7 linked regions of the Homo sapiens genome follow. The protein of the gene in region 6 purifies or fractionates together with the protein of the main gene of each other region. This does not show direct contact. Each region holds a gene or a part of one and is shown on either strand. Other genes may lie near its edges. The genes, in order: HRNR, ABCF1, DEFB126, MYH7, MYH6, TRIM6 and FOXO3.

Evidence for each region.
Region 1: the proteins of TRIM6 (region 6) and HRNR purify together in Homo sapiens (affinity purification with mass spectrometry, with the first as the bait; one large-scale study listed by BioGRID). This does not show direct contact.
Region 2: the proteins of TRIM6 (region 6) and ABCF1 purify together in Homo sapiens (affinity purification with mass spectrometry, with the first as the bait; one large-scale study listed by BioGRID). This does not show direct contact.
Region 3: the proteins of TRIM6 (region 6) and DEFB126 purify together in Homo sapiens (affinity purification with mass spectrometry, with the first as the bait; one large-scale study listed by BioGRID). This does not show direct contact.
Region 4: the proteins of TRIM6 (region 6) and MYH7 purify together in Homo sapiens (affinity purification with mass spectrometry, with the first as the bait; one large-scale study listed by BioGRID). This does not show direct contact.
Region 5: the proteins of TRIM6 (region 6) and MYH6 purify together in Homo sapiens (affinity purification with mass spectrometry, with the first as the bait; one large-scale study listed by BioGRID). This does not show direct contact.
Region 7: the proteins of TRIM6 (region 6) and FOXO3 purify together in Homo sapiens (affinity purification with western blotting; one study listed by BioGRID). This does not show direct contact.

What each region holds. Positions count from the first base shown.
Region 1 is NC_000001.11:152,214,194-152,217,693, reverse strand, and holds part of HRNR (hornerin), read left to right. Parts: coding exon 1-3,500. UniProt on the Homo sapiens protein: Component of the epidermal cornified cell envelopes.
Region 2 is NC_000006.12:30,577,942-30,581,441, reverse strand, and holds part of ABCF1 (ATP-binding cassette sub-family F member 1), read right to left. Parts: intron 3,367-3,500; coding exon 3,240-3,366; intron 3,095-3,239; coding exon 3,057-3,094; intron 2,973-3,056; coding exon 2,865-2,972; intron 1,512-2,864; coding exon 1,437-1,511; intron 1,037-1,436; coding exon 923-1,036; intron 1-922. UniProt on the Homo sapiens protein: Isoform 2 is required for efficient Cap- and IRES-mediated mRNA translation initiation. Isoform 2 is not involved in the ribosome biogenesis.
Region 3 is NC_000020.11:141,345-145,389, forward strand, and holds the start of DEFB126 (beta-defensin 126 isoform 1 preproprotein), read left to right. Parts: upstream 1-1,245; 5' UTR 1,246-1,284; coding exon 1,285-1,342; intron 1,343-4,045.
Region 4 is NC_000014.9:23,418,661-23,422,160, reverse strand, and holds part of MYH7 (myosin-7), read left to right. Parts: intron 1-1,112; coding exon 1,113-1,203; intron 1,204-1,926; coding exon 1,927-2,316; intron 2,317-2,551; coding exon 2,552-2,678; intron 2,679-2,865; coding exon 2,866-2,984; intron 2,985-3,500. UniProt on the Homo sapiens protein: Myosins are actin-based motor molecules with ATPase activity essential for muscle contraction. Forms regular bipolar thick filaments that, together with actin thin filaments, constitute the fundamental contractile unit of skeletal and cardiac muscle.
Region 5 is NC_000014.9:23,387,774-23,391,273, reverse strand, and holds part of MYH6 (myosin-6), read left to right. Parts: intron 1-827; coding exon 828-1,217; intron 1,218-1,554; coding exon 1,555-1,681; intron 1,682-1,762; coding exon 1,763-1,881; intron 1,882-2,218; coding exon 2,219-2,415; intron 2,416-2,607; exon of another isoform or gene 2,608-2,678; intron 2,679-2,935; coding exon 2,936-3,119; intron 3,120-3,350; coding exon 3,351-3,500. UniProt on the Homo sapiens protein: Muscle contraction.
Region 6 is NC_000011.10:5,599,637-5,603,136, forward strand, and holds part of TRIM6 (tripartite motif-containing protein 6), read left to right. Parts: intron 1-3,500.
Region 7 is NC_000006.12:108,679,417-108,682,916, reverse strand, and holds part of FOXO3 (forkhead box protein O3), read right to left. Parts: intron 3,091-3,500; coding exon of another isoform or gene 3,004-3,090; 3' UTR 1-3,003. UniProt on the Homo sapiens protein: Transcriptional activator that recognizes and binds to the DNA sequence 5'-[AG]TAAA[TC]A-3' and regulates different processes, such as apoptosis and autophagy.

The sequences.
Region 1 (3,500 bases), on a different chromosome or scaffold from region 6:
GCATGGTTCTACATCAGGACAGTCATCAACCTTTGACCAGGAGGGATCTAGCACAGGCCAGTCTTCCAGCTATGGCCACCGTGGCTCTGGCTCCAGTCAGTCTTCTGGCTATGGCCGACATGGGGCTGGATCTGGCCAGTCTCCTAGTCGCGGCCGACATGGGTCCGGTTCTGGGCACTCTTCCAGCTACGGCCAACATGGGTCTGGCTCCGGTTGGTCTTCCAGCAGTGGCCGACATGGGTCTGGCTCAGGTCAGTCTTCTGGATTTGGTCACCACGAGTCTAGCTCATGGCAGTCCTCTGGTTGCACTCAGCATGGATCTGGCTCAGGTCACTCCTCCAGCTACGAACAACACGGCTCTAGGTCAGGACAGTCATCTAGGGGTGAACGACACGGATCTAGCTCAGGTTCATCTTCCAGCTATGGTCAGCATGGGTCTGGCTCCCGTCAGTCTTTGGGCCACGGCCAACATGGGTCTGGATCTGGCCAGTCTCCTAGCCCTAGCCGTGGCCGACATGGGTCTGGTTCTGGGCAGTCTTCCAGCTACAGCCCATATGGGTCTGGCTCAGGGTGGTCTTCCAGCCGTGGCCCATATGAGTCTGGCTCCAGTCACTCTTCTGGCTTAGGTCACCGAGAGTCTCGCTCAGGACAGTCCTCTGGCTACGGTCAACATGGATCTAGCTCAGGTCATTCCTCTACCCATGGGCAACATGGTTCTACATCAGGACAGTCATCGAGCTGTGGCCAACATGGAGCTAGCTCAGGTCAGTCTTCCAGCCACGGTCAGCATGGCTCTGGCTCAAGTCAGTCTTCTGGCTATGGCCGACAGGGCTCTGGATCTGGCCAGTCTCCAGGCCACGGCCAGCGTGGGTCTGGGTCAAGGCAGTCTCCCAGCTACGGCCGACATGGGTCTGGCTCCGGTCGGTCTTCCAGCAGTGGCCAACATGGGTCTGGCTTAGGCGAGTCTTCTGGCTTTGGTCACCACGAGTCTAGCTCAGGGCAGTCCTCTAGTTACAGTCAGCATGGGTCTGGCTCAGGTCACTCCTCTGGCTACGGACAACACGGCTCTAGATCAGGACAGTCATCTAGGGGTGAACGACACGGATCTAGCTCACGTTCGTCTTCCCGCTATGGTCAGCATGGGTCTGGCTCCCGTCAGTCTTCGGGCCACGGCCGACAAGGGTCTGGATCTGGCCAGTCCCCTAGCCGCGGCCGACATGGGTCCGGTTTGGGGCACTCCTCCAGCCACGGCCAACATGGGTCTGGCTCAGGTCGTTCTTCCAGCCGTGGCCCATATGAGTCTCGCTCGGGTCACTCTTCTGTCTTTGGTCAACATGAGTCTGGCTCAGGACATTCCTCTGCTTACAGTCAGCATGGTAGTGGCTCAGGGCACTTCTGTAGCCAAGGACAGCATGGTTCTACATCAGGACAGTCATCAACCTTTGACCAGGAGGGATCTAGCACAGGTCAGTCTTCCAGCCACGGTCAGCATGGCTCTGGCTCAAGTCAGTCTTCTAGCTATGGCCAACAGGGCTCTGGATCTGGCCAGTCTCCTAGTCGCGGCCGACATGGGTCCGGTTCCGGGCACTCTTCCAGCTACGGCCAACATGGGTCTGGCTCCGGTTGGTCTTCCAGCAGTGGCCGACATGGGTCTGGCTCAGGTCAGTCTTCTGGATTTGGTCACCATGAGTCTAGCTCATGGCAGTCCTCTGGTTACACTCAGCATGGATCTGGCTCAGGTCACTCCTCCAGCTACGAACAACACGGCTCTAGGTCAGGACAGTCATCTAGGGGTGAACAACACGGATCTAGCTCAGGTTCATCTTCCAGCTATGGTCAGCATGGGTCTGGCTCCCGTCAGTCTTTGGGCCACGGCCAACATGGGTCTGGATCTGGCCAGTCTCCTAGCCCTAGCCGTGGCCGACATGGGTCTGGTTCTGGGCAGTCTTCCAGCTACGGCCCATATGGGTCTGGCTCAGGGTGGTCTTCCAGCCGTGGCCCATATGAGTCTGGCTCCGGTCACTCTTCTGGCTTAGGTCACCGAGAGTCTCGCTCAGGACAGTCCTCTGGCTACGGTCAACATGGATCTAGCTCAGGTCATTCCTCTACCCATGGGCAACATGGTTCTGCATCAGGACAGTCATCGAGCTGTGGCCAACATGGAGCTAGCTCAGGTCAGTCTTCCAGCCACGGTCAGCATGGCTCTGGCTCAAGTCAGTCTTCTGGCTATGGCCGACAGGGCTCTGGATCTGGCCAGTCTCCAGGCCACGGCCAGCGTGGGTCTGGGTCAAGGCAGTCTCCCAGCTATGGCCGACATGGGTCTGGCTCCGGTCGGTCTTCCAGCAGTGGCCAACATGGGCCTGGCTTAGGCGAGTCTTCTGGCTTTGGTCACCACGAGTCTAGCTCAGGGCAGTCCTCTAGTTACAGTCAGCATGGGTCTGGCTCAGGTCACTCCTCTGGCTACGGACAACACGGCTCTAGATCAGGACAGTCATCTAGGGGTGAACGACACGGATCTAGCTCAGGTTCGTCTTCCCGCTATGGTCAGCATGGGTCTGGCTCCCGTCAGTCTTCGGGCCACGGCCGACAAGGGTCTGGATCTGGCCATTCCCCTAGCCGCGGCCGACATGGGTCCGGTTCGGGGCACTCCTCCAGCCACGGCCAACATGGGTCTGGCTCAGGTCGTTCTTCCAGCCGTGGCCCATATGAGTCTCGCTCGGGTCACTCTTCTGTCTTTGGTCAACATGAGTCTGGCTCAGGACATTCCTCTGCTTACAGTCAGCATGGTAGTGGCTCAGGGCACTTCTGTAGCCAAGGACAGCATGGTTCTACATCAGGACAGTCATCAACCTTTGACCAGGAGGGATCTAGCACAGGTCAGTCTTCCAGCCACGGTCAGCATGGCTCTGGCTCAAGTCAGTCTTCTAGCTATGGCCAACAGGGCTCTGGATCTGGCCAGTCTCCTAGTCGCGGCCGACATGGGTCCGGTTCCGGGCACTCTTCCAGCTACGGCCAACATGGGTCTGGCTCCGGTTGGTCTTCCAGCAGTGGCCGACATGGGTCTGGCTCAGGTCAGTCTTCTGGATTTGGTCACCACGAGTCTAGCTCATGGCAGTCCTCTGGTTACACTCAGCATGGATCTGGCTCAGGTCACTCCTCCAGCTACGAACAACACGGCTCTAGGTCAGGACAGTCATCTAGGGGTGAACGACACGGATCTAGCTCAGGTTCATCTTCCAGCTATGGTCAGCATGGGTCTGGCTCCCGTCAGTCTTTGGGCCACGGCCAACATGGGTCTGGATCTGGCCAGTCTCCTAGCCCTAGCCGTGGCCGACATGGGTCTGGTTCTGGGCAGTCTTCCAGCTACAGCCCATATGGGTCTGGCTCAGGGTGGTCTTCCAGCCGTGGCCCATATGAGTCTGGCTCCGGTCACTCTTCTGGCTTAGGTCACCGAGAGTCTCGCTCAGGACAGTCCTCTGGCTACGGTCAACATGGATCTA
Region 2 (3,500 bases), on a different chromosome or scaffold from region 6:
ACGGAGTGAGACTCCATCTCAAAAAAAAAAAAAAAAAAAAAAAGATCAGGAAGCTCTAGTGCACAGTCAGAGGAATCCAGCAGAATCACAGAATTAGGAAGTGCCAGACGCATAGGGACCCTAGAGATCTCCGGACTCCTCCTTCTATCACACAAAGGAGACAAGTGAGACCCAAGGGGATGGGAAGATGTATTCAAGGTCACACAGCCAGTGAAGGCAGAGCCAGGACCCAGATCATCTGAGATAAATTCCAGGCCCTTTCTTCACTGGATTAGGTGTTGCAAACTACAGCCCATGGGCCAAGGCTGACCTGACATTTATTTTTATATAGCTCCTGAACTTTATAAAAATAATTTTTGTATTTTCAAAGAGTTGTTAAAAAAAAAAAAGAATATGTGATAGAGATTGTATGTGGCCTGCAAAGCCAAAAACATTTACTATATGGCCCTTTATAGAAAAAGTTTGCTGGCTGGCATGCTGGCTCACACCTGTAAACCCAGCATTTTGGGAGGCTGAGGCAGGAGGACTGCTTGAGCCCAGAAATTCAAGACCAGCCTGAGCAACATAGTGAGACCTCATCTCTATACTAAAAATAAAAAAATTAGCCAGGGGTAGTGGTGCACACTTGTAGTCCCAGCTACTCAGTAGGCTGAGGCAGGAGAATCTGTTGAGCCCAGGAGGTTGAGGCTTCAGTGAGCCGTGTTCACACCACTGCACTCCAGCCTGAGTGACAGAGTAAGATCCTGTGTAAACAAAAACAAAAACAAAAACAAACGAACCACCACCCCAACTACTCCCCCAAAAAAAGAAAAGAATAAAGGTTTGCTGGGATAATAACTATATCCCCAGATTCTAACTCTCCCATAAGGACCCTGGAAGCCCTAGTCCCTCATTCCACCTTGCCCCAACACCAAATACACACCTGCTCTGCCTTCTTGGCCTTCTCCTTCCCTTGTTTGGGAGGCTCCTTTTCCTTTATAATTTCTTCTTCTTTATCCTCCTCTTCATTGTCCAGAGCAGCGAATTTATTTTGAGGCTAATAGGGAAAAGACAGGTCTGATGAAATGTTTTTTTTTTTTTTCTTTTTTTTTTTTTGAGACGGAGTCTCGCTCTGTCACCCAGGCTGGAGTGCAGTGGCGCAATCTCGGCTCACTGCAAGCTCCACCTCCCGGGTTCACGCCATTCTCCTGCCTCAGCCTCCCGAGTAGCTGGGACTACAGGCGCCCGCCACCACGCCCGGCTAATTTTTTTTGTATTTTTAGTAGAGACGGGGTTTTACCGTGTTACCAGGATGGTCTCGATCTCCTGACCTCGTGATCCGCCCACCTCGGCCTCCCAAAGTGCTGGGATTACAGGCGTGAGCCACCGCGCCCAGCCCTGATGAAATGTTTTAATTCCTGGGCCCCAATACCTCCTCCTGCTAGTTACTCTCTCACCTTAGCCTTCCCTTTTGACTTCTCTTCCTTTCCCTTTTTGCCCTTGAGTGCAGGCTGCTGTTCCTCAGATACGGCCTGGAGGAGACACACATACACATTACACACATACATACAAATTATTGTGCTACTTTGCTGTGTAATAAGCATTTCTAGAGAGTCTACTGTGTTAACCATACACATGCTCCTCCATTTACGACAGGTTGCATCCCGATAAACCCACCAGAAACTTAAATAAAAAATGATAGTTCTTGGCCGGGCGTGGTGGCTCACACCTGTAATCCCAGCACTTTGGGAGGCCAAGGCAGGTGGATCACAAGGTCAAGAGATCGAGACCATCCTGGTCAACATGGTGAAACCCTGTCTCTACTAAAAACACAAAAATTAGCTGGGCGTGGTGGCACGTGCCTGTAATCTCAGCTACTCAGGAAGCTGAGGCAGGAGAATCACTTGAACCCGGGAGGCGGAGGTTGCAGTGAGCCAGGATTACGCCACTGCACTCCAGCCTGGCAACAGAGTGAGACTCCGTCTCAAAAAAAAAAAAAAAAAAAAATAGTTCCAACTTATGATGGGTTTATCTGGATATAATCCCATCATGAGTTGAGGAGTACCCTAAATGAGTATGACTTTCACACCATCATAAAGTAGAAAAATCGTACACCGAAGCAGAAGTTGGAGACCATCTGTATTGAGTGCTGCTGACGAAAAATGAGACCCAGAAAAACCCTACCCTCCAGCTTCAGACTAGATAGCGAAGAGATAACTAGGGAACGTCAGCAAGGCTAAGGATTATAAGTCAGGCAAGTGCGCCACCAGAGTGAGTGGCACTAGCACTGGAGGCTTTCTCAAGAGCTCAAATGGACATGGACTAAGATGCACACGCAGAAGAGTCACAAGTAGAAGAGCAAGGACCTGGGGCTTTGTTTCAGGTTCTGTGCTTAAAGCAACAGAATCACTGTAGATTTCTGAGTGATAAAAATGGCATGGTTTTTTTTGTTGTTTTTTTTTTGAGACTGAGTCTTGCTCTGTTGCCCAGGCTGGAGTGCAGTGCCTCAATCTCAGCTCACTGCAAATTCCACCTCCCAAGTTCAAGTGATTCTCCTGCCTCAGCCTTCCAAGTAGCTGGGATTACAGGCGCACGCCACCACGCCTGGCTAATTTTTGTATTTTTAGTAGAGATGAGGTTTCGCCATGTTGGTCAGGCTGGTCTCGATCTCTTGACCTCGTGATTCGCCCACCTCGGCCTCCCAAAGTGCTGGGATTACAGGCGTGACCCACTGTGCCCAGCCTGGGCATGTATTCTAAAAAGATGATTTTAACAGTATAAGTAAGACAGACCGAGAAGAGCTAGTTTAAAAGCGGGAAATTACTCCACCATGGCCAGAAGGTGCTAAATGGAGTGAGAGTGACTGATCGAGCCACCACTGTCACCTTATTGATCCGATTCTTCTCCGGCTTGGCAGGCTTAGGAGGATGTTTTTCTTCCTCCTCCTCTTCCTCACTCTGATCCTGAATCAGGGCTGCAAAAACATTACCACCCTAGAGAATGAAAGGGCCACAGAAGTCAGTAGGATGGTCAAGGTTGCATCCTTGGAGTCTCCGTTTACCACACAGATGGCTTACCTTGGTTTTCTTCCCTCCGCGGGGTTTTGGGGCGGGTACTGAAATGACAGGGGGAGAACATGAGATAGGAAAGAATTACAATGTCTGGCCCCCCAATTGAATCCAACTTGAAGATCAGGGTATGAGGTATCACTCTCCATGACTCATGGATTCCAGGTACCCATTCCCCCTCAGGTCATTTACCTTCATCCTCCTCATCACTGGTTGGCACTGAGAGCTTCTTAAGACGCTCCATGAGCTCTTTCTCTTCTCCATCATCATCCACATCCTTCTTCCGCCTGCCTTTTCGGGTATCTCGCTTTTTTTTTTGCTGCTGAGAGCAAAAGAACAGTGAGAAAATGAAGCCCAGGCCCCTGCTGTATTTCTGCCTCACAGAGGGTTCCCCATCAGCTGAATGGAGCAACATGGGCTGGAAAGGGGTTGGTGGAACCCAGATGCCTCCCA
Region 3 (4,045 bases), on a different chromosome or scaffold from region 6:
ACATGCTATATTACTTCATTTATGTAATATTCAAGAGAATGCCAAGAAAGCTACAAGAACAAATAGCAGGTCAGTCGTTGCCTGGGTATCATGGAGGTAGAGGGAGGGAAGGGAAGAGGAAAGAGTGGATGCCAAAGAGGAATGAGAAACATTTTGAGAGTGAAGGATATATACATTATGTTGATTAAGGTAATGGTTTCACCAGTGCATCTTTTGCCAAGTTCATCAAATTATACACTCTAAATAATGCAGTTTAATGTACATCAATTATATCTCAATAATTTGGAATGAAAAAAAAAAACTCCTCACAAAGAACAAAACCTCTAGGACCTGATAGCTTTCAGTCACAATATAGTCAGGCACTCAAAAAAAAACTTTAACACAATAAAATTCTCTTTGAATGCCACCTTAAACTCAATCCCATCCAGAGAAAACAACTTTTATTAGAATGACATGTGATTTGCATTTTTAGTTCATGCATTTACTTATATACACATAAATATAGCTTTTTCACATAAATTAGAATCATTGCTATGCATGTTGTTCTAAAATGTTGCTTTTTCACTCAAAAAATGTTTAGTAAGATAAAATCTGCTGCACTCTTTTTAACAGAAGCACAGAATTAAATCATATGGATGCACTTCGTTTTATGCTACTCTACAGAGTGACAAGACTTCTTTGTGCATTTATCTTTGAGCACTTATTTATTTCTTTGTAAAAGGCTTTCTAAATTTCCAGATCATCAACAAAGCATTAATTTGGTCAGTTAAAAAACAATTGCTTATATCCTTCTCTGAAAAGAATGATGTACAGAAAAGAATTATATATATATATGAATAATACATCATAAGTGTTCAGAAAGACATTGTATTTTAGGTGGAGAGACAGGCAGGTGACCAGACTGCTACATGCAGTAAGATGAACCCTGATAGAACTAACACTGGAGGCTGTGAAAAAACTGCTAGGAGCACCCAGCCTTGGTAGAGCAGCATAATTTCTTCCTGTAATTCTTTCTCTCCAAATTGCCATACACTTCAGCAGAGTTTGCAACTTCTCTTCTAAGTCTTTATCCTTCCCCCAAGGCATGCCTAGCACAGGACTCTTGAACAGTGATGCCTCAATTAGAGTTGCTAGCCAATAGATTGAAGCTATGTTGGCACAATATCCTACATCCTCCCGATCTACTGGCTGAGCCCAACCCCACCTAAGAAGGACAATAAAGATCTGTGTTCAGAGTCATACTGAATAGAGACTTCTGGACTCTATAGAACCCACTGCCTCCTGATGAAGTCCCTACTGTTCACCCTTGCAGTTTTTATGCTCCTGGCCCAATTGGTCTCAGGTAAACAGAATCTTGGGGAAGAAGAAACACTGGCCTGGAACAGGGTCCTGCACATGGAGTCCCTGTTTCTAAGTGGTCTGTGGAAATGGGGTCTGGCTTCTCACTGGGAGCAGGGCTGAGATTTGTCCTACTTCTTCAGACCACCTCTGTTCTAAGAAACTTGAAGGCTCTCAGGATAGAGCAGGATCTGTGATCGGAGCTGGGGAGGAGGGTAAGGCAAATCCCATACAGTTGCCTCCAAAGGTAGAAATGATCTTGAAATCCCAAACTTCTATCCTGTCACTTCGGGTCAGTCCAGTCAAGCCCTGCCTCATTTCACTTTTGTTTTTTTTGCTGCCGATATTCCCTCCTGAGGTAACAATTATATAATATTACTTCCCCCAGTTTTCTTGGTCTTACAGAGAGGTCTCTGATTTTTTGTTTGTTTGTTTGTTCTTGGATGTGGTTAACAGAACAGGAAAGGCTGTTTCTATATATGTATAGGACTGTAAAATGGAAAATGAAAAAAAAAATTCTGTGTGGGAACTATTGGAAGTCTATATCAGATTTCAGCTCTGTTTGTGTAAGCATTTCTTATTTTTAATTTATTCTGTAGCTTATATTTACAAAACCAAGACAAGAACACTGAAAGTTATTTAGAAATAAATTGGCCACATTTCATCACTGCTTGCATTTTTTCACTTGTAACCAACTGATATATGAGCTTATAACCTGCTTTATTTTTTTACCTACGATTCTATCAGGAAAATTTTCACAGGTCTTGAATATTCCTTGAAAATACAATTTGCAGTAGATGCTTATAATTCTGTCATATTTTTGTACCAATATTAACTTGGAAAGTCCTTAATTGTGTGTCATTTGGATTATTTTTTCTAATGTGTGAGTACTGTAAATAACATTGTACAACCTTATTAATATATCATTGTGAGATTCTCTGTTTGTATAGGTAAATTTTAGAAGTTCCATTGCTTGGTACAAGGGTATTATTTCTTCTAAGTTAACTGGCACATATTGCCAATGGTTACTATTGGAGTATTTGTATTTTTAACATTTGTATTTCATATTTCTTGCAAATATTTTCAAACATATTGGTTGCTTCTAAAATGCATTATTTATTTGAGACACATAATTTTCATTTTCATGTCAAATCTATTGGTGTTTTCTTTGCATTCTTCCACTAACTTAGTAAGTCCTTCTCCGTGTTGAGAACAGTTATTCACCTATGATTTTGTTTTTTACACCGGACTCAATCCCACCTTTTTACATAAGGCACAATGAAATAAACTAATATTCTTTAGTATAATTTCCTAATGGGTTATATAATAACTCCATAGCCCGCCTCTAGAGATAGTAGTTTATATTCCCTAATTTGCAGAAATGTTCAAATTGATAGTGGATAAGAGGAAATTATAATGCTCTCATGGTTGTCTCAAAAGATGTTTCAGGCCTATTGCATCCTTGAAATTCTATGAGTTTAAATTGCCTGATTTCTCCCTCTGTCTCTGGAACATTAGTGACATACATCGACATACATCACATACTTGTATGTTGTCCTTTTTCTACACTTTGTGTGTGTGTATATATATTCTAACATATACATATATATAATGTTAAAAACTCAATCATCAGAGGAGGATTAAACAGCTGATAAGGGATAATAGTAGTGGTAATAGCATTCAAAAACGTTTGCTCTGTTCACTTACTGTCAATTACCTCATATTTCTTTCATTTATTGTACTTATCACAATCTGTAGTTATTTTGTTTATTCATTTACTTGTTTATTTTCTTTCTCCCCCTCTCCAATGTAAGGTCCTCAAATCATGTCTTTCTGTTCATTGTTTTATTCCCTGCATCTTGCAGAATTCTTGACATGGTAGGCACTCATCATATACTTGTTGATTAAGTACAGTAATGAGTTAAGCAAGGTAAGAAAGAGCTCCAGCGTCACTCTAGGGCCTCTATGTGTTAAACCATGTGATGAGATATTTTCATATGTATATAATATGTACACATATATAGGCAAACCCTGCAGAATGTCTCCCTAATGAATATATTCCTAATGGAATGGCTTTTTTTATTCTCAAAATTTTGTAAAATGTACTTATATCTCAATATCATATAGGTATATAGGTATAGATGAAAATTTTTTATTTATCTTTCCATAACTTGACATGACATTTTTAACCAGATAATATGTAAGATAAGCCTAGAGTTATCTTCTAAATATAATTTTTAGGATCTCAGAAACATGTAAGGGACATTTTGAAAATCTCACCAATTGGCAACAAAAGCCATATGTGTTTCAGTAATGGTGAGAAAGATGACAGCAATTATTTTAGCATTTCTTATTTTTGAAATGATAGTTTTTACTTCTGTTTAGGTGTTTGTGTTTTAGCTACATTTTAGGAAATTGCTTGGGGATTTTGTGTTCATGTATAACAACATGCTATATATTTTCCCATTTAAAATCATGGGGAATTGGCCCCTGGTAAGTGTTTGTATACAGAATTCTGATTTCAGAAATGAGAATCTCATACATATCTAAAGAATTCTATGTGTGTTTATAAAATTTCACTTAATCCTCAAAGTAGGTATTTATGATTAGGAAAAACATGCTAAAGCAACTGGAAAGGCACTTGAATAAACAGTGCTCAAAAACTATTGCTATTTTTTATCCTCCTGTGATAAATACTTAGGCTTAA
Region 4 (3,500 bases), on a different chromosome or scaffold from region 6:
CTGCCCTTCCTCCTCCCCAGCCCATAACAGTACAAGCAGACCCAAGACAGCCATCCTCTGAGGCAACAACCTCACGCAGCCTCCACAAGTGGAGGCGCAAACCATGGGAAAAGGCCTCCCAGGCAAGGGCTTTCCTCCCCTAGTCCCAGATATCAGGGTTAGTTAGATGGTCCTCCCTGGCAAAAAGTCCATTGTATCCCATGAGTCCTTTCTTCTTGTTAGGCACTCAGTGGGAATGAAAATAACAGCCTTCCCCCTTCATACACATCTCTCTTTGGAGACCAGTTCCTTGACATGGAGGAAGGCTCCACATGAGAGCCTCTTAGGAAAGTCCCTTTGTGGCTTTTCACAGAGAGCCCACAGGGCACCAAGAAATGCCCTCACATTAAAGAAGTCAGGGGATCAGGGCCATTTCTTTGTTTTGCTTAACTTGTGGTTCCAATTCTTAGTGTAAGTTCTTCCAAAATGTATAGACTTTCCAGACTTGGTAAACAGTGAGCTTGCAGAACATATTTTGATAATTGAAGGTCTTATGGTGTTTCAGGCTCAGGACTTTGAAAGGCTTTGAGAATCATCATAATCTACATCCTCATCAAGTTTGTGTTTGCACAGGAATCTTCATACCTTCCCAGGCACAGAATGTGTTGAATAAATGAATAAATACACGATCCTATTTGATTCTCAAAACACCTTTTAAGGATGGTATCTTTAATTTCACTTTACCAAAGAGGAAAATAAGTTTCAGAAAGGTTAGCTGAGTTACCCAAAGCAATAGTGACAAAATTAAAGACCATCAGAGCTAAAAAGGACCTTTGAAACAATCTAGTCCGACCCCCTCATTTTACATTATGAGAAAACAAGGACCAAAGATGGGAATGTCCTGTAGAGCCCAGGCCCCATCACCCTGTCTACAGCACTCCTCCCATTACATTCTTGTTGGATTTCAATCTCACCGCAGGTGTTACACTTCCAGGGATCCTACATCACCCCCAGAAGCTGTTTTTCTAATGAAATCCTACTCTTTACCTGTATCATTACCATTTTCAACCACTGGTGGACCCTCCTGAGGCCCCACGAGTCTCCCTTACCTCACCATCCCTCCTTCCCCACAGAAAAGACTTTGAGCTGAATGCTCTCAACGCAAGGATTGAGGATGAACAGGCCCTCGGCAGCCAGCTGCAGAAGAAGCTCAAGGAGCTTCAGGTGAGGTCTGGACACCCACGCGGGATGCTGAGTCCCTGGGCTGGTTCTGTTTCCCCTGCCCCCTCCTCTAGGGTGTCCTGTTCACAGCATTACAGGAACTGATTATGTGTCCATGGAGGCAGGCACGCAGCTATCACAGTGTGCCCATGGATACATCCAAAAGGGGTCAGGTGATCCACAGAGACCCTGAAAAGGTCACAGGCCTGGAGGGCAGAATTCCTGGCTTCCTGTCTCAGCTCTGCCTTAGTTGGGTGACCTCTGGGAGCCCACTCCAGATCTCTGGGTCTCCATGCCCTCCCCTGTTACATGGAGGTTTTTAAGAGTCCTTCGACTCTGATGGCATGACTTTCCTCCTTACTCTAGAGCAGAAGCTGTGTTAGGTCTTTAGTTGTCTGGTCAGACAAATACGGCTCTCTCATTTTCAACTTTTGTTATTTTTTTATGACTAAACTGCTTAAAATATCCCCAGAACACAGGTCTCTTTGTCCATCTTTAAGAGCAAGTTTCAACCACTTTCCTTCCAATAAAGAGCATGTAGACTGTCAGGCCCTCGCCTAAAGGAAGGCTCTTCAAACTATCTTCCCCAAATCCTTTAATTCCCACCTCTCCACTGGAAGAGCTAAACTGACTTGCTGTTCCAGAGAAGCCGAGAGCCTTTTAGAGCCGGGGGGATTCCAGTGGAGGGGTCCAGGCGGTGGGTCTGAGCCCTTTGTGTCTGACCAGGCACGCATCGAGGAGCTGGAGGAGGAGCTGGAGGCCGAGCGCACCGCCAGGGCTAAGGTGGAGAAGCTGCGCTCAGACCTGTCTCGGGAGCTGGAGGAGATCAGCGAGCGGCTGGAAGAGGCCGGCGGGGCCACGTCCGTGCAGATCGAGATGAACAAGAAGCGCGAGGCCGAGTTCCAGAAGATGCGGCGGGACCTGGAGGAGGCCACGCTGCAGCACGAGGCCACTGCCGCGGCCCTGCGCAAGAAGCACGCCGACAGCGTGGCCGAGCTGGGCGAGCAGATCGACAACCTGCAGCGGGTGAAGCAGAAGCTGGAGAAGGAGAAGAGCGAGTTCAAGCTGGAGCTGGATGACGTCACCTCCAACATGGAGCAGATCATCAAGGCCAAGGCAGGCTCTGCTCGGCCTCCCCTCCTCCAACTTCCTCCTCCCACCTCCCCTTTCTGTCCATGTAGTGTCTCTTCCTTCATGGTTCATTTTCCCACTTCCCTTCCTCTGCCTGGTTCTCAGATCCCCTCCTTCTTTTCACACCTTCCCTCTTCTTTTCTCCTTCAGTTGCACCTCTTACACCCCTTCATTCCCCCCGCCCCCAACATCCATCATATAACTCTCCTTCCCTTCTCAGGCTAACCTGGAGAAGATGTGCCGGACCTTGGAAGACCAGATGAATGAGCACCGGAGCAAGGCGGAGGAGACCCAGCGTTCTGTCAACGACCTCACCAGCCAGCGGGCCAAGTTGCAAACCGAGAATGGTGAGCCTAGAGCAGGGGCTCCATGGTTCCCACCACAGTCTCCCCAACCTCCTGAGCCACTCCAGCCTCGGGCACAAGCCAATACACGCACACACAGACACAGAGTCTCTCCAGAAAATGGGGCCTGAGGGCTAGAGGAGGAGGTGGGGATAGAGAGGAGTGCTGATCTAGAATGGTGCTTCCCCAGGTGAGCTGTCCCGGCAGCTGGATGAGAAGGAGGCACTGATCTCCCAGCTGACCCGAGGCAAGCTCACCTACACCCAGCAGCTGGAGGACCTCAAGAGGCAGCTGGAGGAGGAGGTTAAGGTAAGGGCTAGACTCGGGCCACCTGGCCCAAGCAAGGAGCACACTGACTAGCCTTGCATCAAATCACTTCCCTTCCCAGCAATAAGGCTGGCTGTGGACCAACAGTTCTCCAAGAATTCTAAAAAGAAATCACAGCCCAAACCCTGCCACATGCCATCTACTCCCCAGGCTGAGGCCCTCTGCTTCTGCTGCATCCCTGGACGGGAGGCAGGGTGTGAGAAGGAGGAGAGAAAATGAACTAGGGAGGCACGAGATGGCCTTGCCCGGGCACGGCTAGGGGATGTAGGGACTGCACAAATGGGTCCTGGGATTTGCAGGGCCACCTGAAAACTGGAGAAAGAAATTCAACTGGAGCCTATTCCTAGCACTTTGCTGGACTCATGAAAAAGGAGAAAGAACATGATTTTTAAAAAACTCCAGGGTTCATACTAACCTGCCTCTTATAGCTCAGTGATCTTAGGTTAGGGAAGTCCCCTAACCTTTCTGAGCCTGTTTCCCTCTCCCCAGCCAGGTAAA
Region 5 (3,500 bases), on a different chromosome or scaffold from region 6:
CTCTGCTGCTTGTAGGACCCATCCATGAACAGTCCATTAAAGCTGTCCATAACCCGAGGTGAAGGGATTTCCACTGAACCCCCGTTTTGCTCCTGGCTAGCCAGACAACAGATCAAAATGGTAGATACGATATTCTCCCAATTTAGTCAAGACCAAGGCTAAGGCCCAAAAAATGAGGTAAGGGCACTTAAAGAGGATAAGGAGATGAGGTGAAGAGGAGAGTAGCCTGCTAGCACTTTCCTGGCCTGGAAGGGAGCAATCATGTTGAAACCCAGCCCTGGGCATAAACACAGCAAGCCTGGGAGAGCAAGGAATATGGTTGATTGGACTTTGTGGTTAACTTGGAGAATTGCAAAGGTATCTGATTGTTTCGAGGCATGTTGTCACAAATATTTGTAAAATACAAGCACTCATTTTCCCGTCTTATGAATAGCGCAACAGAGCCTAGTGAATCTGGGGACTCTGAACTTCTTGATCTCACAGGATACCAGGATCCCCCTTCAACCACAGGTTCTCAGGATTTGGGGCTGCAGATGCTCACACTGGGTCTGAGATGCCCTTGGGAGCTTCAGCCAAATTCCTATTGATGGCCTATGCATTATAGGATGTTTAGTAGCATCCCTGGCCCCTACCCTCTAGATGCCAGTAGCAAGCCCCACCAAGACATGACAATCAGACATTGCCAACTGTTCCCTGGGGCACAAAATTGCCCCTAGTTGAGAACCACTGCTTGAGAGGAACCTAAGTTCCTGGTAGCTTTTCAGAGCCGGGGGGATTCCAGTGGAGGGGTCCAGGCGGTGGGTCTGAGCCCTTTGTGTCTGACCCAGGCACGCATCGAGGAGCTGGAGGAGGAGCTGGAGGCCGAGCGCACCGCCAGGGCTAAGGTGGAGAAGCTGCGCTCAGACCTGTCTCGGGAGCTGGAGGAGATCAGCGAGCGGCTGGAAGAGGCCGGCGGGGCCACGTCCGTGCAGATCGAGATGAACAAGAAGCGCGAGGCCGAGTTCCAGAAGATGCGGCGGGACCTGGAGGAGGCCACGCTGCAGCACGAGGCCACTGCCGCGGCCCTGCGCAAGAAGCACGCCGACAGCGTGGCCGAGCTGGGCGAGCAGATCGACAACCTGCAGCGGGTGAAGCAGAAGCTGGAGAAGGAGAAGAGCGAGTTCAAGCTGGAGCTGGATGACGTCACCTCCAACATGGAGCAGATCATCAAGGCCAAGGCAGGCTCTGCTCGGCCTCCCCTCGCCCTCTCCCCTGCACAGCGGAGCCTCCCCCATGCCTTCTCTCTCTGTCTGCCATCTCCCTTGTCATTCTCATTCTCTTCATCACCCTTTGGTCTCTCTTCCTGTCTCCCCTGCCCCTCTCTGGCTCTCCTCACCCTCTCTATCTCTTCATGTTCCTCCTTTCTTTAATTCAAGTCTCTCTTCAGACTGCGCCCTCCCACACCTTCTGTGTCCCCCTCCTGCCCTCTGGCATTCCCCATCTCTGACCCTCTCTTCCTTCCTCTGGTCGACTCAGCCCCTCCCACACTCACCCTTCCTGTCTTGCTTCCTGAAGGCAAACCTGGAGAAAGTGTCTCGGACGCTGGAGGACCAGGCCAATGAGTACCGCGTGAAGCTAGAAGAGGCCCAACGCTCCCTCAATGATTTCACCACCCAGCGAGCCAAGCTGCAGACCGAGAATGGTGGGTGCCCCTAACCAACCCCCTGCCTAGGGCAGGACATGACTTGTGAAATGGCCCACAAGCCCCTCATTTCACCTCCAGGAGAGTTGGCCCGGCAGCTAGAGGAAAAGGAGGCGCTAATCTCGCAGCTGACCCGGGGGAAGCTCTCTTATACCCAGCAAATGGAGGACCTCAAAAGGCAGCTGGAGGAGGAGGGCAAGGTGAGGCCCAGTGGGGAGGGTGGGCAGGCTTGATGGCAGCCCTGGGGCAATTCATCTCAGTGCCAGAAATGGAGCCTGGAGCTGGAAAGAGTCCTCTGCAAGGGAAAGACCCTCCAGTCTAGGTTCTGCCCTGCAGCTAAGCGTCATTTAATGCCTCTTTTCTTATTCGTAAGGGGATGGGGTGAGCAGACTGGGAAACTCCTCAAACAGTGAGGTGCCACATCAGCCCACATGGTGAATAAGGCTGGGCTTGGTTGAAGTACTACATAAGAAGAGAATCTAGAGAATGGGGCACAGGGAGTCCCTCCCACCTCCTGGTGCCCCCCCCCCTCCCCAGGCGAAGAACGCCCTGGCCCATGCACTGCAGTCGGCCCGGCATGACTGCGACCTGCTGCGGGAGCAGTACGAGGAGGAGACAGAGGCCAAGGCCGAGCTGCAGCGCGTCCTGTCCAAGGCCAACTCGGAGGTGGCCCAGTGGAGGACCAAGTATGAGACGGACGCCATTCAGCGGACTGAGGAGCTCGAAGAGGCCAAGTGAGCTCCAGATACCCCCTTAACCTGACTCTCAGAGAGGAAGGGGCGAGAGGACCTGGGGTGGGGACAGGCAAAGTGGTCATGAGACGGAAGTGGAAGAGACAGGAGGAACTCGGAGGGCAACAGAAGTGCTTGGAAGAAAGCCTGAACTCTTTGCTCTGTGAACTCTGGCTGGCCCTGACCCACTTCCTGTGACGGGCGAGCTTTTGGCCCGGGTTATACCTGATGCTCACGTATAAGACGAGCAAAAAGCTTGTTGGTCAGAGGAGCTACCGTCGATCAGCCTGTGTGGGGGGTGAGGGCAGGGGGCACTGACACCCAGATGCCACTGCAGGTAGGGAGGACGCCTGGGCAGCCCGTGCTGGCGGACTCTGTTCCAGGCATGAGCAGGCTCAGCTCCTGCTAGGCTGGACTTACGGTGTCTCAAGGAGATATAGGGAGGGGGTGGAAGGAGGTCCACCCAAGGCTCCAGTGTTGCCCAGTAGAGTCACACACACACCCTCCACCCTCACCTGGGCAGAAAGAAGCTGGCCCAGCGGCTGCAGGATGCCGAGGAGGCCGTGGAGGCTGTTAATGCCAAGTGCTCCTCACTGGAGAAGACCAAGCACCGGCTACAGAATGAGATAGAGGACTTGATGGTGGACGTAGAGCGCTCCAATGCTGCTGCTGCAGCCCTGGACAAGAAGCAGAGAAACTTTGACAAGGTGGACCATGGGCGGGGGCCGCAGCCAGCATGCAGGGCAAGGGGGCATGAGGGGTTCAGTGAGAGGCCAAAGGCAACCTCCTTGGAGGTGGAGGAGGAGGGCTAAGCCCAGGCTCGGGACCAGGGACAGATCTTGGACATGCGGCTGAGGCTGGGGGCTGGGGCACTGGGAAGCAGGAGGGCTGGGGAGCTAAGGCTGGGGGGCTGAAGAGTGAGCCTTGTCCCCGGGCAGATCCTGGCCGAGTGGAAGCAGAAGTATGAGGAGTCGCAGTCTGAGCTGGAGTCCTCACAGAAGGAGGCTCGCTCCCTCAGCACAGAGCTCTTCAAGCTCAAGAACGCCTACGAGGAGTCCCTGGAGCACCTAGAGACCTTCAAGCGGGAG
Region 6 (3,500 bases):
TTGTGATCCGCCTGCCTCAGCCTCCCAAAGTGCTGGGATTACAGGCTTGGGCCACCGCGCCCGGCCAACACAATTATTTTTTAACAGTAACACTTTGATAAGATAGCACATTTATTTCTATACTCTAGTGCCAACATCAAGGCCAACTATAAGCTCAGCAGTAAGCTATAATTTTCAATCCATTATAAAGTTAATTGATCATTTCCTGTGTTAGCTGCAGTGCTAAGGTCTGGGGCACCTGGAAGATAAATAGAGCCTCTATTGCCTCTAGAGCCTCTATTGCCTCTATTATCAAAGGCAATAGAGCCTTATAGTGCAGTGTGCTAAGTGAGATGATGTGGGTATGGTAGGAGATATTAACAAAGGAAATAATAGTGCAGTTCCCACAGGTGTGATTAATTTGGTTAAACAGACTCTCAGATGATAGGTAAATACGTCTGTAACACCAATTAGTACTACCAGTTAGATGCACAGAGTTCATTAATTTGTTAATTATATTTTGCACCCTTTATGGAGATGAGGAATATAAGGGAGTAATAAGAGCTCCAGCTCTGCAGCCTGCGTATCTGCATTCAACACCGGCCCCGCCACTTGAAAGATCTACTAAATACCAGTTTATACAACTATGAGATGAGATTTAAGGGACATTCATAATGTTGTTATGTGGAATTATTGAGTTATTATGTACAAAATAATTAAATTCTTGCTGAATACCTAATGGGCTTTCTGTAGATATTTGCTGTGAGCATCGCTGCTGCTAAGCATGGCAAAGCTGAAGAGCCAGGCTAGTACTTGCAGAAGCACCACAGAACACTAGATGGCAGCGCCAAGAACCTGTTTTCGGCTCGCTAGATCCCCCAGCAGGGCCGCTAGGAGGCTTATGCTTACATCCCATGACTTTTTCTTACCCTTATCTGAGACACTTTCTCAGGCCCTTTCTTCTAAGGGGAGTGTTGTTATTGGGAGGCAGTTTGATATACTTTTTAAATCCACCAGGTCCTCAAGATGGGGGTAAATTGGTACAATTTACAGGGCCTTGTGTTGAGGCCCACACGGACTGTTTTTTACATCAGTGTACATTTACTTTTGCTGGGAAACCAGCCAAAGACAAGTTAGAGAATTCTGCCTGCTCCCTACGCACTGTGGCCTGTTCAGAACAGCGAGGTCACGCCTGGAACCAGGGCCAGAGCTTCACATAGGCAGTGTTAGCTGGCTCTTCTTTGGTGGCCCAAACACAACTCCAGGTAGACAAGCAGAACAAATGGCTCCCAGTGAAAATAACTCAGTGCTGGAAACAGTTTTAAAAATTTTCTAAAGAGTATTCTCAGTGTGATTTTAAACAATGGTAACGTAATTTATCAACAACTCTTCCAAGAAAAATAGACAATAAAGGTCATATTTCTCAATGAAGATATAAGGTCTCAACTGCCTTACCGGCCACCTCTCCTTACATATGGACCCCCTTAGGATCCTGCTGAAGTTTAAGACAGGCCCTGGCAAAATCCCATCATCAAATAGGATCTCTCTCATTTCCATACTTCGAAAGCACTTGGTCCATGCCTGACTTTCACAGCCTTTACCACTGACTGTCTTTGGTCAAAGTTATGAGTTTGAGGACGAAGCTTTGAACTAGCACCCTGGAAAGGTTAGGTTATGCCAATTCTACAACTTACAAGGTGCATGATTGTGTAAAGTCACTTAATGTCTCTTCTTATTAAAGAATGGAGAATACTCTTATTTATGCAGAGTTGTCCATGAGGGATAAAGAAAGCAAGAGAATGTGATTTCTAAATCACAACTGGTTACAGAATCATGAGTTGTAAAAATATTACCTCCCCAGGCTGGGCGCAGTGGCTCACGCTTGTAATCCCAGCACTTTGGGAGGCCAAGGCAGGCAGATCACTTGAGGTCAGGAGTTCGAGATCAGCCTGGCCAACATGGTAAAACCCTGTCTCTACTAAAAATACAAAAATTAGCTGGGCATGGTGGCGCTCACCTGTAATCCCAGCTACTCAGGAGGCTGAGGCACGAGAATCGCTTGAACCCGGGAGGCAGAGGTTGCAGTGAGCCGAGATAGTGCCACTGCCCTCCAGCCTGGGCGATAGAGCAAGACTCAGTTTCAACAACAACAAAAAAATTACCACCCCTTATTGTGGCCATTGCTGTTTCTTTGGTTTTTTTCTGAGAAGGCGAGCATGTGGTGAGAGGGCTCTATGTGGAGCAGGGCCGTTAAGAAGTGGAAGTGTTTTCACAGTCTTAGAGATCAGATACCAGAGAGTGATGCAAAGGTGATGGCAGAGAGGTGAAAGAGCTCATGGAAAGGTCACAGATGATCACTGTAGAGGATGAGGGGGTTCTGACCCCCTCATTCATCCAAAGTTGAGGACCTATATGTCAGGCTCTATGCTAGCTGCCGAAGATACAACCATGAACAAAAAGTCTCAGATCTCATGGAGCTTACATTTCACTGCGAGGATTCAAACAAGTAAAGATCTGTATTAAGTGGTGTAAGAAGTAAAATAGACCGGGTGCAGTGGCTCATGCCTGTAGTCCCAACCCTTTGGGAGGCCAAGGCGGGCGGATCATGAGGTCAGGAGATCGAGACCATCCTGGCTAACACAGTGAAACCTCATCTCTACTAAAAAATACAAAAAAAATTAGCCGGACATAGTGGCAGGCACCTGTAATCCCAGCTACTCGGGAGGCTGAGGCAGGAGAATGGCTTGAACCCAGGAGGCGGAGCTTGCAGTGAGTCGAGATCACGCCACTGCACTCCAGCCTGGGCGACAGAGCAAGACCCCCTAATGAGGTGAATATGTGGAGAGTGATTGTATGGTGGCTGTGCTCTAAATAGACTAGTCAGAGCAGACCCTTCTGATAAGGGAATAGGTAGGAAGCTAGTAAGTCATGCAGATAGCAGAGTAAAGGGTCATCTTTACATCACGAACGACAAATGCAAAAATCCTGAGGCAGCAGTGTGTTTTAGGTGCTTTTAACATTGAGGATATGTTTTGGGTGAGAAAAGGTCACACAGTCTCCAGGTGCGGTGGCTCATGCCTGTAATTCCAGCACTGTGAGAGGCCAAGGCAGGAGCATCACTTAAGGTCAGGAGTTCAAGACCACCCTGGCTAACATGGTGAAACTCCATCTCTACTAAAAATACAAAAACTAGCCAGGTGTTGTGGCACGTGCCTGTAATCCCAGCTACTCAGGAGGCTGAGGCAGGAGAATTGCTTGAACCTGGGAGGCGGAGATTGCAGTGAGCTGAGATTGTACCACTGCATTCCAGCCTGGGTGACAGAGTGAGTCTCCATCTCAAAAAAGAAAAAAAAGAAAAGATCACACAGACAGTGACTCACACAGGCCCCTCCTTTCCAGGGCCTCAGTTTGTCTCTATTCAATAGGAGCAAGAGGAAATTATCACTGCTTTAATATGGGGAGAAATTGGTGCCTTGTATGAGCCGGGATAAAGAACGTATTGGATATGAGAATGAGAAGCC
Region 7 (3,500 bases), on a different chromosome or scaffold from region 6:
GCATGTCATGTTTTCAACATTAGGTACTCTTCTAATTTCTCATCAAAAAGTAGGCGGCTCCCTAGAGCAGCTTATTTAGAGGCCAAGGGTGGCCTCGGATAGTTCTCATCATAAATCAAACATTACAGCTGCCAGGCCCCTTGAGGCTAAGCATTCTGCTGATATGCTCCAGATCAGAAAATTATTGTTAGGGACCTGTGACACTCACTCAGAATGTGACATGGTGGCCAACGGCTGGCCTGTCCTGAAAGCAGGGTCTCAACATAAGGGGCAGAGGGCTCTGGCAGCACCCCTGCCCACTTCAGAACCAGGCTAGTCTCTGGGGCCCTGGCCTCTCTGCAGGTGGCTGAGGGTGAGGGTGCCGGGACCCTAGACAGGCTTCACTACCAGATTCTCGGCTGACCCTCTCCAGGGGCTGGTGGGTCTCGCAGTACTGATGCTGCACTTGACTTTACCCTGGTCTCAGCTCTCCACAACACTCTACATGTAGATGCTGTTTTAGTTACTTGAAAAAGAAAAAACAAAACAAAACAAAAAACCAAAGCATTCCCTCTTCATTCTCCTGATCTGTTTTGTGCTGCCTTGCCCTTGTACCTTCTCTGTCCCTTCCTCAGCTGTTTCAGATTAAATGATAATCTGGTTCTAGGACATTCTGTAAGACATTCTGCCTGAAATTCAACAAACGCTAGAAAAGGAGAATAAATGAGATACCATGTCTGAAAAGAATTCAACATTTTAAAGTTGAAACACATTGGAGGGTTGCCTTTCTCACTCCCAAAGCAGCTCCCAGGGTCTGTAAAACTGCAAAGGTAAGTAGCTATTTTGTTAGTCACTTTGCATGTTTCTCTGAACTCAGAAGTTCTCAGGACCCTAATGCTGGAAGCACTCTGGAATTCTCCTATCCCCCCACCCTTTTACATCTCGCTCCCCACTCTAGCCCCCATGCTACTAGTGCCTCTGCAATGCATCCCCACACAGGGCAGCATCCCTTAGGAAGCTTGGAGAGGCAACCCTCCTTCACTGCTACTGGAAAGTTCTTGCATACAGCACATTACTAAAGAATCCAGGAAGTGGCTAGCATTATTATAAAGGAATATAGTAAGCAAGTCTGGCTCACTGACAAGCAGACCATATGAATAGAATACATACTTAAAAAAATTACACATACTTTAAAAATGAAGATTATAAACATGTAGCAGTTTAGAAAAGGCAATGTGCTACAGTCTACTATAACCACAATTGCACAACAATTTACAGATTCAGTAAAAGGCAGGGTGAAATCAACAGGGCCATCGCTCAAACATGGCAACCCAAGCGAGGCAGGAGACGTGTGACAATACCAAATGGAACTCTCATTATGCTAGGAGCTGTGATCACCACCAATATCACCCCCAGAGGAGTTATAAAGCCAAGGCGCACAAGGGGGCCCCTGGTGGCCGGTGGTGTGTGCAGGGGGTTGGGTGGCACGTCTGTGTTGGTGCCCACTGTCACGGTGCAAGCATCAGCAAGAACTCAAGCAGGGAAGTCTGTGCTGAAATACTAGCCTGTATTCCTAAGGCCCATGCATAAGGTTCCATTTTTGTACTGTACATGATAAAATATATTTATACATTTATATGCCTAATGCTTTTTATGCAAAGAAAAGAGTCTTCATATATCACTTTGGAGAAGTATGCATATACTGTGCTAATCAGAGCATCGTTATACCAATTTCTTATGTACCAAAGGTGGTCCCAACTATTCCGTCTACCAAAGAAGGTAACGAATATAATCACACTTTCCAGGTTAAACAGAAAGCACCTATACAGCACCATAACTTTTTGAAAACACAACAAAATGAAATCCATAGAAGCAGAAAAAAAAGTTAAAACTGCCCTATTTTGTACTTCCATTGAGTCACTTGTACAATTACAACCTAAGCTTATATTTAAAAAATCAGTTTGTATGCTATTGCCTCTCACTCATACACTTCTAGCAGATCAGATTATATAGCAAGGCTGAAAATAATCAAGGATGTGTATTTAGGAAAACAGTGAAGTTAGAACTGCCTCAGCATTGACTTGGGTTTTTACTCTTCGCACATTTCTCACTGCAAGCTTAATGCTCACCTGTAAGTTCATTTGTTCTGCAAAGCAAAACAGGACTTTTTTGTTTTTTTTTTTTTTCCTTTTCTTTCTCCTTAAAACTAAACCCTTTAGTGACATTTGGCAATGAGTGGAGAGCTGAGCTGATTTCTTTCCTGAAAATATCAATATTCTAGTTTCTAACCAGCAGACCAACACTGTTCACATTAGCTGAGGACACTGACAGGAAATCACAGGCCCTACTGATCTGGCACCCGTAGACTTGGTGCTGGGGTCCCGTCCACAGATCACCCTGACTCAGAACCGGAAACACACTGGGCCGGACGCTGTGCTCCACTCCTTTTGCCTATGCACGGTTCTGTCCTGGACGGGTGCACATAGCAAACAATTGTGCCATTGTTCAGTTTTTAGAAAAGGATAATTTTCTACCAAACAAAAGAAGAAAGAAAATCCCCCTTTAGTTTATGTAATTTGTTAGTTTATGGAGTTCCATGCGCTCAAAAGCTTGTGATGCTCGAACCCGGAATGGTAACTGGTACAACATTTTCTTTCTGTTTTTAAATTTGCTAGGGGAAGGACGGTTAACATTTTAACAGAAAAATACCGCAAGTTAATGCATGTGAAAAACTCAGAAAGTCAAAGGAAAACAAACACAAGAACAACACTTAAAACGTCCCATAAACCATCGCAATATTAAAACACCACAGAATGGCCGACGGGGGCTCACGGTGTGCTCTGAATGAGGGTGGGTGGTGCTGAGGGGTGCTGTCCTCCACTGGCAGGCGGCTCACCACCCTGTACAAGGAAGATTTTGCATACTTTTTAGAGTTCTGTTCCAAGGGTAAGTGCTTCACCCAGGGTAAGGGGCCATTAACAGTCTCTGCTGGGTTAGGAAAATGGCGTGGGATTCACAAAGGTGTTAAGCTGTAAACGGTATCACTGTCCACTTGCTGAGAGCAGATTTGGCAAAGGGTTTTCTCTGTAGGTCTTGTGTCAGTTTGAGGGTCTAAAGGAGGAGAAAAGAAAACCAGAGATCATTAAGGGCACTGCAACAGCAATAGTGGGCACCTGAGGGCCACCTGTCAAGGCCTTCCATCTCCCTCACCCACCTCAGAGCCCAGGGCTAGCACAGCAAAGCTGCTCTGCTACACCAGTTTCAAAGGTCTGAAATCCTAAGGACAAAGCACAAAGATTACTTACCTTATTTCTCATGTTGTCCTTATTACAAAATGCTCTGAAGTTGAAAAGCCCAAAGGGAATGGGATCATTCACTTTGGGAGATAAAGAAAGCCATATTAGGGGTGTTTTGGTGGGTCCTTTTTAGTTAGATGTTCAAGGTGCAGATAAGATTCTGTTCTAGACTTCCGGACTGAGGGATTTCCTAGGACATGGGACTTTCCATGCTAAAACAAGGAG